3 linked regions of the Homo sapiens genome follow. The protein of the gene in region 3 interacts with the protein of the main gene of each other region in a pairwise test. Each region holds a gene or a part of one and is shown on either strand. Other genes may lie near its edges. The genes, in order: PER1, KNSTRN and NUPR1.

Region 1 (3,747 bases), on a different chromosome or scaffold from region 3:
CTAGACTCATGCCCGTTGGACTCATTGCCACTTGAACCATTGCTGTTGGCATCGGTGTCATCGGCCAGGCTGGGGCCTGGGCAAGGCCGGTGCTGTGGGGGCCCAGGGGATGGGACGCCCCCAGGACAAAATGATTCCCCAGGCCTGGGGTCCCCTCCCCCATCAGCCCCTTCTAGGGGGCCACTCATGTCTGGGCCATGGGGAGAACAGAACAGAGAAGGCAGAGAGGCCACCACGGATGCACGAGGGGGCCTGGAGGCTTGGCTGAGGGAGTGAGGTGGAAGATCTAAGTCTCTGAGGGTTGAGAAGTTCGATCACAGCCAGTACCTGGAGAGGGAGACCAGGAAGCAGGGCTTGCAGAAAGCTGGTTTAACTCCAGAGCACCTGCTGGCTTCACTCAGACCTTCCCCCTGCCTGGCCTCCTGCAGGACTGATGGGAGTGGAACCCAGGCCTGGGGCTTCCAATGGGGAGTCAGGATGTCTCCTGTACCCTTAGGGGGACTGCCAGCGGGAGAAGGTTCTCCGGGGCCTTCCTTCACATCCCCTGCCACCATGGCCTGAGCAGTCAATGAGAACCACGGCTGTAGACAAAAACCTGGACACTTCCCATTCCCAAGTTCCCATTAGGTGTCCACTCTGCCTGGGCCTCCAAGGCCTCGGAGCAGGAGGTGAGCTGGTCGCCTCCTATATTTAGGCCTCCAGGCTAATTTTATCCGGGGGCGGTGCCACCCCCGCTGCACATGCGCGCCGACGTGCGCGGCCCCACCACGCGCTTCCGCCGCCGCCACGGTCGCCAGGGAAACCGACGTCAGCTGCTGAGCTCAGCGGTTGCTGGAGGGACCACAGGAGGGCGGGAGGAGCGACCCCTCCCCCATTTCCCGGCGGAAGTGGGGGAACGGCCCACTCTCACACTGGTGGGCGCGGCCGGGGGGGTCACGCATCCCTTACATATCCCCAGTCCCAGGATGGCTCGGTGGCCGTAAGAAGTGGGACGGCCTATTAGGATCCCAGGGTTGGTCCTGGCTTCCCCAGGACGAAGCACAACGGCCACTGCCCTCGGCGCAAAAGCCCCTCAACCTGACTCTCGCCTGGATCCCAGTCATTCTGGTCAAGACAACACAACCTTTCCTTCTTTAGCCCCTGCGCTGCTTCCCCACCACAAGGACCGAAGCCGGCAACCTGCCATCGTCAAGGACCCGAGGATCCTCTCTCTTCAGTCCCCTACTTTTCTGGCCAGACCCCCCCACCAACCCCAAGCCTTGGGCAGAAGACACACAACAGCCAACAGATCTTTCTTCCCCTACTCCCCGTCCAACCACACCCCTACTACTGAGCATTTTCTGAGCGCCAGGGGAAAAGGGAAGGTTGTGGCCAACAGCAGGAACCAGCGCTGGGAACGGGATGTTCTAGTCCGAAGTGGGCTGACATCACAGGCGGCGCAGGGCCAGGGACTGGAGAACAGAGACACGGGGAGCGCTGAAAGCCTAATAGGGTCCTGGTACCGGGGCAAACCTGGGGCCCCTCGAGTAACGAGCAAGAAGACCGGGGCATGCCCGCTGAGAGTCGGCTGTGGGGCCGGGAAAGCTGGGACGGGGAGGTGGGGACAAGCTGGAGGTAAGATGAGTGGGTCAGGAGTGCAGACTCCCGGTGCAAGATTTCGAGGAGGACTTCGGTCCTTGGGGGCAGGGAGAGGGTGGGTAGCGGTAAGGACGACAGTGTGCCCTCTGCCTGGGCCGAAAGTAGCCCATCAGATTGGAAGTGGCAGCGGTCCGGCTCAGGGACGGAGATCGGCCCCAGGATGGCCGCAGAGATGCCTACCTGGTCGCAGGAGTGTCCTCCGCACGCCTGCCCGCCGCCGCTCCAGCCCGCAGCCGAGTGGAAGCTCCACCGGGCGGGCGGGGAGGCGGGTTGCATAATGCCGGGCACTGCCCCCTCATTGGCCTCTTGCCGACGGAGCCGCAGGCCCCGCCCCCGATTGGCTGGGGATCTCTTCCCGGCGCCTGATTGGCTAGTGGTCTCCACTAAGGTCAGGGCTGTGTCACACACACGGGCGCACGTGGACCTGGGTGCTGGTGCTGGGCTGAAGAGCCCCAGACACCGCCCAGCCAATGGGCGCAGGACGCTTGCACATTGAATAATGGAAGGGAGGAGAGAGGGAGATACGCTGCGCCTCTTTAGGGAAAAAGCCCGGCCCGGGGTAGGTGCTCAAGACTTGTCTACTTCCTGAACGCACTAGCCTTGCAGAACACAACATCTTGGCATCTTCGCCTTTCCAAGGGTGAGGAAAAGGAATGGCGCTGCAAGTTAGGCCACGCTGGATGAGATGGGTGGTCCTTGAGAGGAGGGGAGAGACAGAAACCTGCCTGGGCCTCTCCTGGGTTCCTTTCCCAACCTTGTTCCCTCCCAACCTTCGTTCTACATAATGAAGCCCTTTAACCGAAGCACTTCCTCTGACACTTCAAATCCTGGGAGAGGACAGTTAAGGGTCCACGTGTGACCGGTGGGTGAGTGGGTGGAGGAAGGATGCGGACAATGGAAGGGGCAACCAGAGCCAATAGTGGCTGTGAAGGGAAACAATGGCAGGTGCTTCTATGGCCACTCAGAGACAAGGTCTCCGGGCAGCCTACGTGGTGTCTAGTACTTTCCTCCAGAGGACGCAGCCACCCACAGTTAAAGCTGCCCCAAAAGTGGGGGCCAGGAAGCCAGGACTACAGAGGGACCAAGGGGATGGCCCAGAGAAGAGGCCAGCTGGGGCCCTAGACAGAGAAATGTGGGGTGGCAAGGGCTTCATATTTCCACTGCTTGGAAAAGAGAAAGCCAAACTCCAGGGGCCCAGACGGAACGTCATCTGTCTCATTCACTGTAGTCTCCAGAGCCCAGGACAGGACCTGACACATGGCAAGTGATCGATAAACATGATTTTTTTTTTTTTAAACAAGGATAGGTTGGGGAGGTGGGAAAAGAGTGTCAACAGGAGAAAGGGGGCTGGGAATTCTGATTCTCTAAAAGAGATGAGTAGTCCTAGAAAGAGAACAGGGGCACGATTTGCAGGCAATAAAATGTTAGTCTGGGCTCAGGAGAGCTGCAGTTACACAGCCCCCTCCATCCAGGACCGTGATGAGTAGTTCCTCGCAGGGCTCCCTGGAAACGTGGGTAGTAGATGAACAGGCCTCCAAGCAGCTGCTGACATAATCATTGTGGGGGCACTCCCCTCACTGTCACGTGGCCTAAGCTTTCCTGAACAATGAGGGAAGGGTGAAGGGGAGGGCTCTGTGGAAAAGCTGAGACAAGATCGTGTTATAAATTAACCCAGAAAAATCGAAACAGGAAAACAAAAGATTCAGGAGCCTGGAGGCCGGGCGCGGTGGCCTGTAATCCCAGCACTTTGGGAGGCCCAGGCAGGCGGATCACCTGAGGTAGCGAGTTCGAGACCAGCCTGACCAACATGGAGAAACCCCGTCTCTATTAAAAAAAAAAAAAAAGATTCAGGAGCTTGGATTCTCAGTCTCCTCTCCCTGAAAATGATCCTCTCCACCCCAACTCATACTGTGGCTTTGGCCTTATCTCGTTTGCAGATACCTCTTCCCTGGAAACATGGTTTTTCTCCCCCTTCAGGGATTTAGGTGTGATCTCCCCTAACCCAGGCAGTCCTTGATCTCCCGCCTCCATCTCCCTGTCTTTTGCATAGACAAAAGGCTCCAGCCCTCCAGCAGCCCCCGCTTGCTCCCAAGACTCTTGTTGTCCTGC
Region 2 (3,747 bases), on a different chromosome or scaffold from region 3:
CATGCCTGTAATCCCAGCACTTTGGGAGGCTGAGGCAGGCAGATCACCTGAGGTCGGGAAATCAAGACCAGCCTGACCAAGATAAGAGAAACCCTGTCTCTACTAAAATTACAAAAGATTAGTCAGGCGTGGTGGCGCATGCCTGTAATCCCAGGTATTTGGGAGGCTGAGGCAGGATAATCGCTTGAACCCAGGAGGCGGAGGTTGTGGTGAGCTGAGATTGCGCCATTGCACTCCAGCCTGGGTGGCAACAAGAGCAAAACTCCGTCTAAAAAAAAAAGAAAGAAAAATACGGCCTACAGAGTTACACAAACACGTCCCATTCTATCCTGGCTATTACACAGTGGTATATGACCTTCAGTGAGTTGCATAACCTCCCTGAGGCCTTGTTTCCTCATTTTTGAAATCAGGACAATACCCACATCTCATAGTATTATTATTATGAGTAATAAGAGAGAAAACACGTGTGCATTTCTTAGCCCAGTAGCTGGGCTATTATCTAATGTTAGTTTATCATCTAATAAACTCTAATATCACCAATTGTTGGGAGCAGGCCCCCCAAATCTGGCCATAAACTGGCCCCAAAACTGGCCATAAACAAAATCTCTGCAGCACTGTAACATGTTCATAAAGGCCCTAATGCCCATGCTGGAAGGTTGTGGGTTTACGGGAATGAGGGCTAGGAACACCTGGCCTGCCAAGGGCGGAAAACCACTTAAAGGCATTTTTTTTTTTTTTTGAGATGGAGTCTCGCTCCGTCGCCCAGGCTGGAGTGCAGTGGCGTGGTCTCGGCTCACTGCAAGCTCCACCTCCTGGGTTCACACCATTCTCCTGCCCCAGCCTCCCGAGTAGCTGGGACTACAGGCACCCGCCACCATGCCTGGCTAATTTTTTGTATTTTTAGTAGAGACGGTGAAACACCATAGTTAACCAGGATGGTCTCCTGACCTTGAGATCCACCCGCCTCGGCCTCCCAAAATCCTGGGATTACAGGCGTGAGCCACTGCGCCGGCCCTTAAAGGCATTCTTAAGCCACAAACAATAGCATGAGCAATCTGTGTCTTAAGAGCGTGTTCCTGCTGCAGTTAACTAGCCCAACCTATTCCTTTAATTCAGCCCATCCATTTCCCATAAGGGATACTTTTAGTTAATTTACTATCTATAGAAACAATGCTAATGACTGGTTTGCTGTTAATAAATACGTGGGCAAATCTCTGTTCGGGGCTCTCAGCTCTGAAGGCTGTGAGACCCCTGATTTCCCACTTCACACCTCTATATTTCTGTGTGTGTGTCTTTAATTCCTCTAGCGCCGCTGGGTTAGGGTCTCCCCGACCAAGCTGGTCTCAGCAACCAATATTAGAGTTTTTTCTTAAAGTTCTCAGTCTTTTTTGCTAGTATTTTGTCTTCAAAACTTTTTTATTTTTGTAAGTCAGAGTCTTGCTCTGTCACCCAGGCTGGAATGCAATGACGTGATCTTGGCTCACTGCAATCTCTGCCTCCCGGGATGAAGTGATCCTCCTGCCTCAGCCTCCTGAGTAGCTGGGATTACAGACATGCGCCACCATGCCTGGCTAATTTTTGTATTTTTAGTAGAGATGGGGTCCCATCATGTTTCCCAGGCTAGACTCGAACTCCTGACCTCAGGTGATCCACCCACCTTGGCCTCCCAAAGTGTTGCGATTACAGGTGTGAGCTGGTGTGCCCTGCTGTCTTCAAAACTTTTAAGATATGCCCAAATAATAGATCTGGAACTAAAACCTATTTGTACAGACTTTTCAGCTTATTATTTCTATTTCTGATAGTGCAAAACTTCCAAACTAGCCTCAAAGATGAGACATGAATCCTTCTCCAGGTTTTCACCACCACCACCACCAGAATCTTCATCTCGAGATCACTAACTACATACACCCAGCCCTTCCTCTCCTGAAGGCTTTACCCTCCTGTTGATGGGCCATAGCTAAGTGTGATTTCCAATCAGCAGTGGTCCTGGCGTGGAGTCCAAAAAGCTCTTGCTTGAGACACAAGATAGTAGCACCAGTGATTCTTGCACTGACAATGGTTCTTACACCTAGCTGTGCCTCACCCCTGAAAATTCCACTCAGGTTCCTGAGGTGGAACCCAGACCCTAACACAGTAAACAAGTCCCACAAATGATTCTGATGCAGAACCAAGGATTGAGATCCACTACCCTAGAATAGTGGCCAAGTTGATTTACCCTGATGCTCACCCTTTTCTGACATTCCTTCTGGTGGCAGTGTCAGTAGCTTTCATTTGCCTAGGAGGGCAGAAACAAAGAAATGAATCAGAGACTTACAGTACTGTTAAGTGTGCTGTGAACAGGCAGAACAAAGAGCTTGAGTTTCTGAGGAAAGAACCAGACATAAAAGGCAAATGGCACAAGCTTAAGAGCTCTGAGAGACTATGCATTACTGCTTCGGCACAGATTATTGAAAAGGCTTTTTAGTAGCAAAGGGGCATGCCTCCGACCACCCTAACAACCTGACAGAGCTGTTCCTCTCAAGATGGCGTGGCTATCTCATGTCAACCTCACTCACCTGGAACTGACTGCTGGCTGGGGACATACACACACACTAGGGCTGGACTGTGTGGTCAGAGCAGCAACCTAGGATAACAACTAGTCCCCACCCTGCATGACTACCCCTCAGGGTTGCTGTATGACTACAGTGCTGCCACTTGTATGCTCAGAGCAAGCGATGAAAGAGGAAAGAACACCTCTTATAACTCTGGCTGTGTCTCTTCAGAAAGATCAACACAGAGGGTTCTGGCACAGAGCTCAGCAATGCTGCACTGCTCTGGGCCACTGATTGAAGGCCAGTTGTTCAGGAGACTTGTGTTGTCCAAAACTCTGTTTTCTAATTCTTTGTATTGAGCAATTTCTAGGAAGATGTTCTAACTGGATACTAATGATCCGTTCTCACCCATTCTCTCGTCTCAGTTTGGTGATTTTTGTAACATCATTCTCTGGACCTCCTGAATGAAGCTGTTTGGAAACATCGACTTCTTTGGACCTAACAGGTAAGAGACTCTTAGAAGTGGCCCGAGTTTGTGTGTCTGCAAAGGAAAATGAGAGGTAAAGCTTCTGGCATCATGACCCGACAGTTGCAACCCTGTAACAAACAGAGCCCCATTCGAAGTTGTCATAAATCTTTATTTTACTTTATTTTAAAAAGTATTATTTATTTTTTTGAGACAGAGTCTTGCTCTGTGGCCCAGGCTGGAGTACAGTGGTGTGATCTTGGCTCACTGCAACCTCCACCTCTTGGGTTCAAACGATTCTCCTGCCTCAGCCTCCCGAGTAGCTGGACTATAGGCACCTCAAATATGTTTTAAAATTTTAAAAATAGAGACAGGGTCTCACTATGTTGCCCAGCCTGGTCTCGAACTCCTGGGCTCAAGCAATCCTCCTGCCTTGGCCACTCTGGCGTGAGCCACGATGCCTGGCCAAATCTTTATTTTCATTCTGGCAAATTTCAACATGTGAAGATTAATTCAAAAGAATAAAACTTCCAGGCTAATTGGCAATAAAAACCAAAATTATTTAAACGTGACAGTACAGCATGTTTGAGGGTAGCCAAAAGTTTCATTGAACTGAAAGGTGTAGGCTGTAAAAGTGAACATGGAGATGGACACCAGCAGAGAGCAGGGTGGAAGTTAGCAGGTAAAACATGCCTGAATCCTTGTACCATCTCATTAAGCTCCTCCAAGCACTCTGCACACTCTCCTAAG
Region 3 (3,747 bases):
TAGGATCCTTTCGGATCCAAAAATTCTGCAATTCCAAGAATTGCCTTAATTCCCAGAACAGCCACTTAAAGGCCTCTCAGGCAGAGGCTGTGCCAGGCGAGGGCGAGGCCAGGAAAGGCCAATCAGAGGCCAGGAGGGAGGGGCAGTGTGTGAGGACTCCTGGCTGGTGTCAAAGGACCCAGGACAGGGAGTGGCCATTCCAGCTAGGGACACAGTGCTTCCCAGCCTTCATTTTCTCTTTTGACAGAAGAGAGGCCAGTCTCACCATTTGACAGGTGAGGAAACCCAGGCCCAGAGGAGTAATTGACCAGAAATTAACGAGAGTTTAGGATTCTTCATTGTCAATACATGGTTCTTCCCAGGCATGTAGCAAAGGGGGAAAAATCCAGGCTTTAAAATTCAGATAGACCTGAGTTCATAATTCCAAGTCCTACAGGATGTGGCTGTGTGACTTTAGGCAAATTACTTAATGTCTCCGAACCTCAGTTTTCCGGTCTGAAAAAAAGGGGATCATTAATAGTATGTCCTATTGGGTTATCGTAAGGATTAAATGGAGCAAAGCCTATAAAACACTTCTCACAGAATAGGAGCTCCAAACACAGCAGAGATGTTTCCAGGATTTTCTGAAGCCAACACACCAGGTCTGTGCTGGGCTGAGGGCCGACTGCCTGGTGTTGCTCCTGCCATTTGCTCCCTGGGTTCTAGAGCTGATGGTGGCCCTATTCCTGGTTCCAGTCATATCAGGATTCTATTTGTCCCTCTCAGCAGCACAGGCCTCCAGCAGCATCCTGGTAACTCAGAAGGCATCCAATAAGCATTGATTGAGTTAATATGTAACTTGTATGGAAAGAGGAGTTGGAGGCAAAATCTGAAGGATTTCCAAGGTAGACTGTAAGATTCTGGGCCCAGGCTTCCGTGTGATCCCAGAGGAGGGTCGGCCTGGGGTGGAGGTCAGGAGATGGGTGGAGGATTGCAAGTTAAGGAAAACTTTGGTTTTTGTTTTTTTGAGACAGGTCTCACTCTGACGCCCAGGCTGGAGTGAGATCATGGCTCACTGCAGCCTCCACCTCCCAGACTCAAGAGATCCTCTCACCTCAGCCTCCTGAGTAGGTGGGCCCACAGGCACAAGCCACCACACCTGGCTAATTTTTAATTTTTTGTAGAGAGAGGGTCTTGCTGTGTTGCTAGGCTGGCCTAGAACTCCTGGGCCCAAGCAATCCTCCCACCTCGGCCTCCCAAAGTGCTGGGATTGCAGGTATGAGCTTCTGCACGCAGCCATCAGGGAGGAAGAGAAGGAAACATCTAAGCTGAGCCTCATGAGATGGGGTCGGGGGAGGAATTAAAGTCATCTCAGACAGAAAGGACCAGAAAAACAGAAGCTTATTTAAGGGCAGGTATGAGAGACAGATTTCAGCCCACATGAACAGACTTGCCCTGAGATAGAATTAGGCAACCTTTGCCGGGTGGTGTGGCTCAAGCCTGTAATCCCAACACTTTGGGAGGCCAAGGCAGGCAGATCACCTGAGGTCGGGAGTTTGAGACCAGCCTGGGCAACATGGTGAAACCCCGTCTCTACTAAAAATACAAAAATTAGCCAGGTGTGGTGGCCCACACCTGTAGTCCCAGCTACTAGGGAGGCTGAGGCATGAAAATCGCTTGAACCCAGGAAGCGGAGGTTGCAGTGGGTCGAGATCACACCACTGCACTCCAGCCTGGGCGACAGAGAGAGACTCCATCTCCCAAAACAAAACAAAAAAATTCAGCAACCTTTAAATGTAGCAAGTTCCCCCTCCATAGTGGTATTCAAACAAGCAGAGGCAATCCCACTGTTGCGTGGGGAGAGTTGGGCCAGAGGTCCTTAAATGTCCTTCCGGGTCATGGATTCATTCTGTGGCTGTGATTAGGCTGGACTCAAGGGAAGGGGATGGATACAGGTCCCCAAGGGTTCAAGCTGGTCGTAGTCTGACGTGCATCTGTTCCTGCTCTATCAGGTACTTCGGTCTTCTGTGGATGTCCTTGGGTCCCCATGAACCACTGACTCCAAGTTCTGCAGTGTGGGGCTTATGTGAAAGGGACAGGGGAAAAGGAAACAGGCTCTGCCCGGGGCCCAATCTCAGAGTTTTCTCCCCCGACATCTGTTGAGTCTGCATGTGGGCAATGTTTCTTGCTAGCTTCTTCGTGTATTCACTCTCTCTGGTTCCCTTTCATCATAAAACCCTGCTGTTGCCCAAGTTTTGGCTACCACGTGGCTAAGCAGCTCAATGCTACATTTCCCAACCTCTCTCGTAGTTGGGTGTGGCCATGTAGCCACATTCGGAGCAGATGTGATGTGTTCTACTTTTAGATTATGCCCTAAAATTGAAGAGGTGTGGCCTCCTCTGTCTCTTCCACACTCTTTCCACAGGCTGAGATGCAAACGTGATGGCAGGTATTGGAGTAGCTATTTTGGGCCTCAAAGTGGAAGCCATGTTTTGGGTGTGGCAGAACAGTGAGTAAAAATAGCTGGAATCCTCAACACAATGGAGCTGCCATTTGAACCCAGGAGGACTTGGGGCTAAGTAAGAGAGGAGTAACTTTGTATCCTGTTTTGATTCTTCATAATAGCAACCCAAACCTGTATCTCAATCAACAAATAATCTCAGCTCCAACCACACTTCCTGTTTGCCCCATATTTTTCTTCAACTCTGGTCCTGAGACATAGCACTGAATAAGAATCTCCCTCCCCCATCTCACTTCCCAGAACCCTGTCCCACAGCCCCCTTGGCCTGGGGACCCACCTCATATCTGAAGACAATAAGATCCCTGAATATGAGCCCTGAGTGAGCTAGGGCAAATCCCTTAATATTTCCTTCCCTCCTTTCCTCCTTCCCTCCTTCCCTCCCTCCTTTCCTTCCTCTTTCTTTCCCTCCTTCTCTCTTTCTTTCTCTCTCTTTTTCTTTTTTTGAGATGGAGTTTTGCTCTTGTTGCCCAGGCTGGAGTGCAATGGCGTGATCTTGGCTCACCACAACTTCTGCCTCGAACTCGAACTACTGACCTCAGGTGATCCGCCTGCCTTGGCCTCCCAAAGTGCTGGGATTACAGGTGTGAGCCACTGTGCCGGGGCTCGCTCTTTTCTTTCTTTCTTTCTTTCTTTCTTTCTTTCTTTCTTTCCTTCTTTCTTTCTTTCTTTCCTTCCTTCCTTTCTTTCTTTCTTTCTTTCTTTCTTTCTTTCTTTCTTTCTTTCTTTCTTCTCTTTCTCTCTCTTTCTTCTTTTTCTCTCCTTTCTCTCTTTCTTTTCTTTCTTCCTTCCTTTCTTTTCCTTCCTTCCTTCTTTTTCTCTTTCTTTCTTTCTTTCTTTTTCAATACATGGTTTCACTCTATTGCTCAGGCTGCAGTGCAGTGGCACCATCATGGCTTACTGTAGCCTCCAACTGGGTTCAAGGGATCCTCCAACTTCAGCCTCTGAGCAACTAGGACTACAGGCATGAGCCACCATGCTTTGCTAATTTTTAAATTTTTGTAGAGACAGGGCCTTGGTATGTTGCCTAGGCTGGTCTCGAACTCCTGGCCTCAAGCGATCCTCCCTCCTTGGCCTCCCAAAGGCTGGAAGGCTGAGGTGGGCAGATCATTTGAGGCCAGGAGTTTGAGACCAGCCTGGCCAACATGATGAAACCCCATCTCTACTAAAAATACAAAAATTGGCCAGGCGTGGTGGCTGACGCCTGTAATCCCAGCACTTTGGGAGGCCAAGGTGGGTGGATCATGAGG

What was found.
Region 1: the proteins of NUPR1 (region 3) and PER1 interact in binary tests that used the Homo sapiens proteins (3 or more experiments, as listed by UniProt).
Region 2: the proteins of NUPR1 (region 3) and KNSTRN interact in a two-hybrid assay, tested with the Homo sapiens proteins (2 studies listed by BioGRID and IntAct).

Annotation. Positions count from the first base shown.
Region 1 is NC_000017.11:8,150,519-8,154,265, forward strand, and holds the start of PER1 (period circadian protein homolog 1), read right to left. Parts: upstream 1,887-3,747; 5' UTR 1,819-1,886; intron 328-1,818; 5' UTR 189-327; coding exon 1-188. UniProt on the Homo sapiens protein: Transcriptional repressor which forms a core component of the circadian clock.
Region 2 is NC_000015.10:40,385,687-40,389,433, reverse strand, and holds part of KNSTRN (small kinetochore-associated protein), read right to left. Parts: intron 3,073-3,747; coding exon 2,940-3,072; intron 2,276-2,939; coding exon 2,228-2,275; intron 1-2,227. UniProt on the Homo sapiens protein: Essential component of the mitotic spindle required for faithful chromosome segregation and progression into anaphase.
Region 3 is NC_000016.10:28,532,394-28,536,140, forward strand, and holds the end of NUPR1 (nuclear protein 1), read right to left. Parts: 3' UTR 315-3,747; downstream 1-314. UniProt on the Homo sapiens protein: Transcription regulator that converts stress signals into a program of gene expression that empowers cells with resistance to the stress induced by a change in their microenvironment.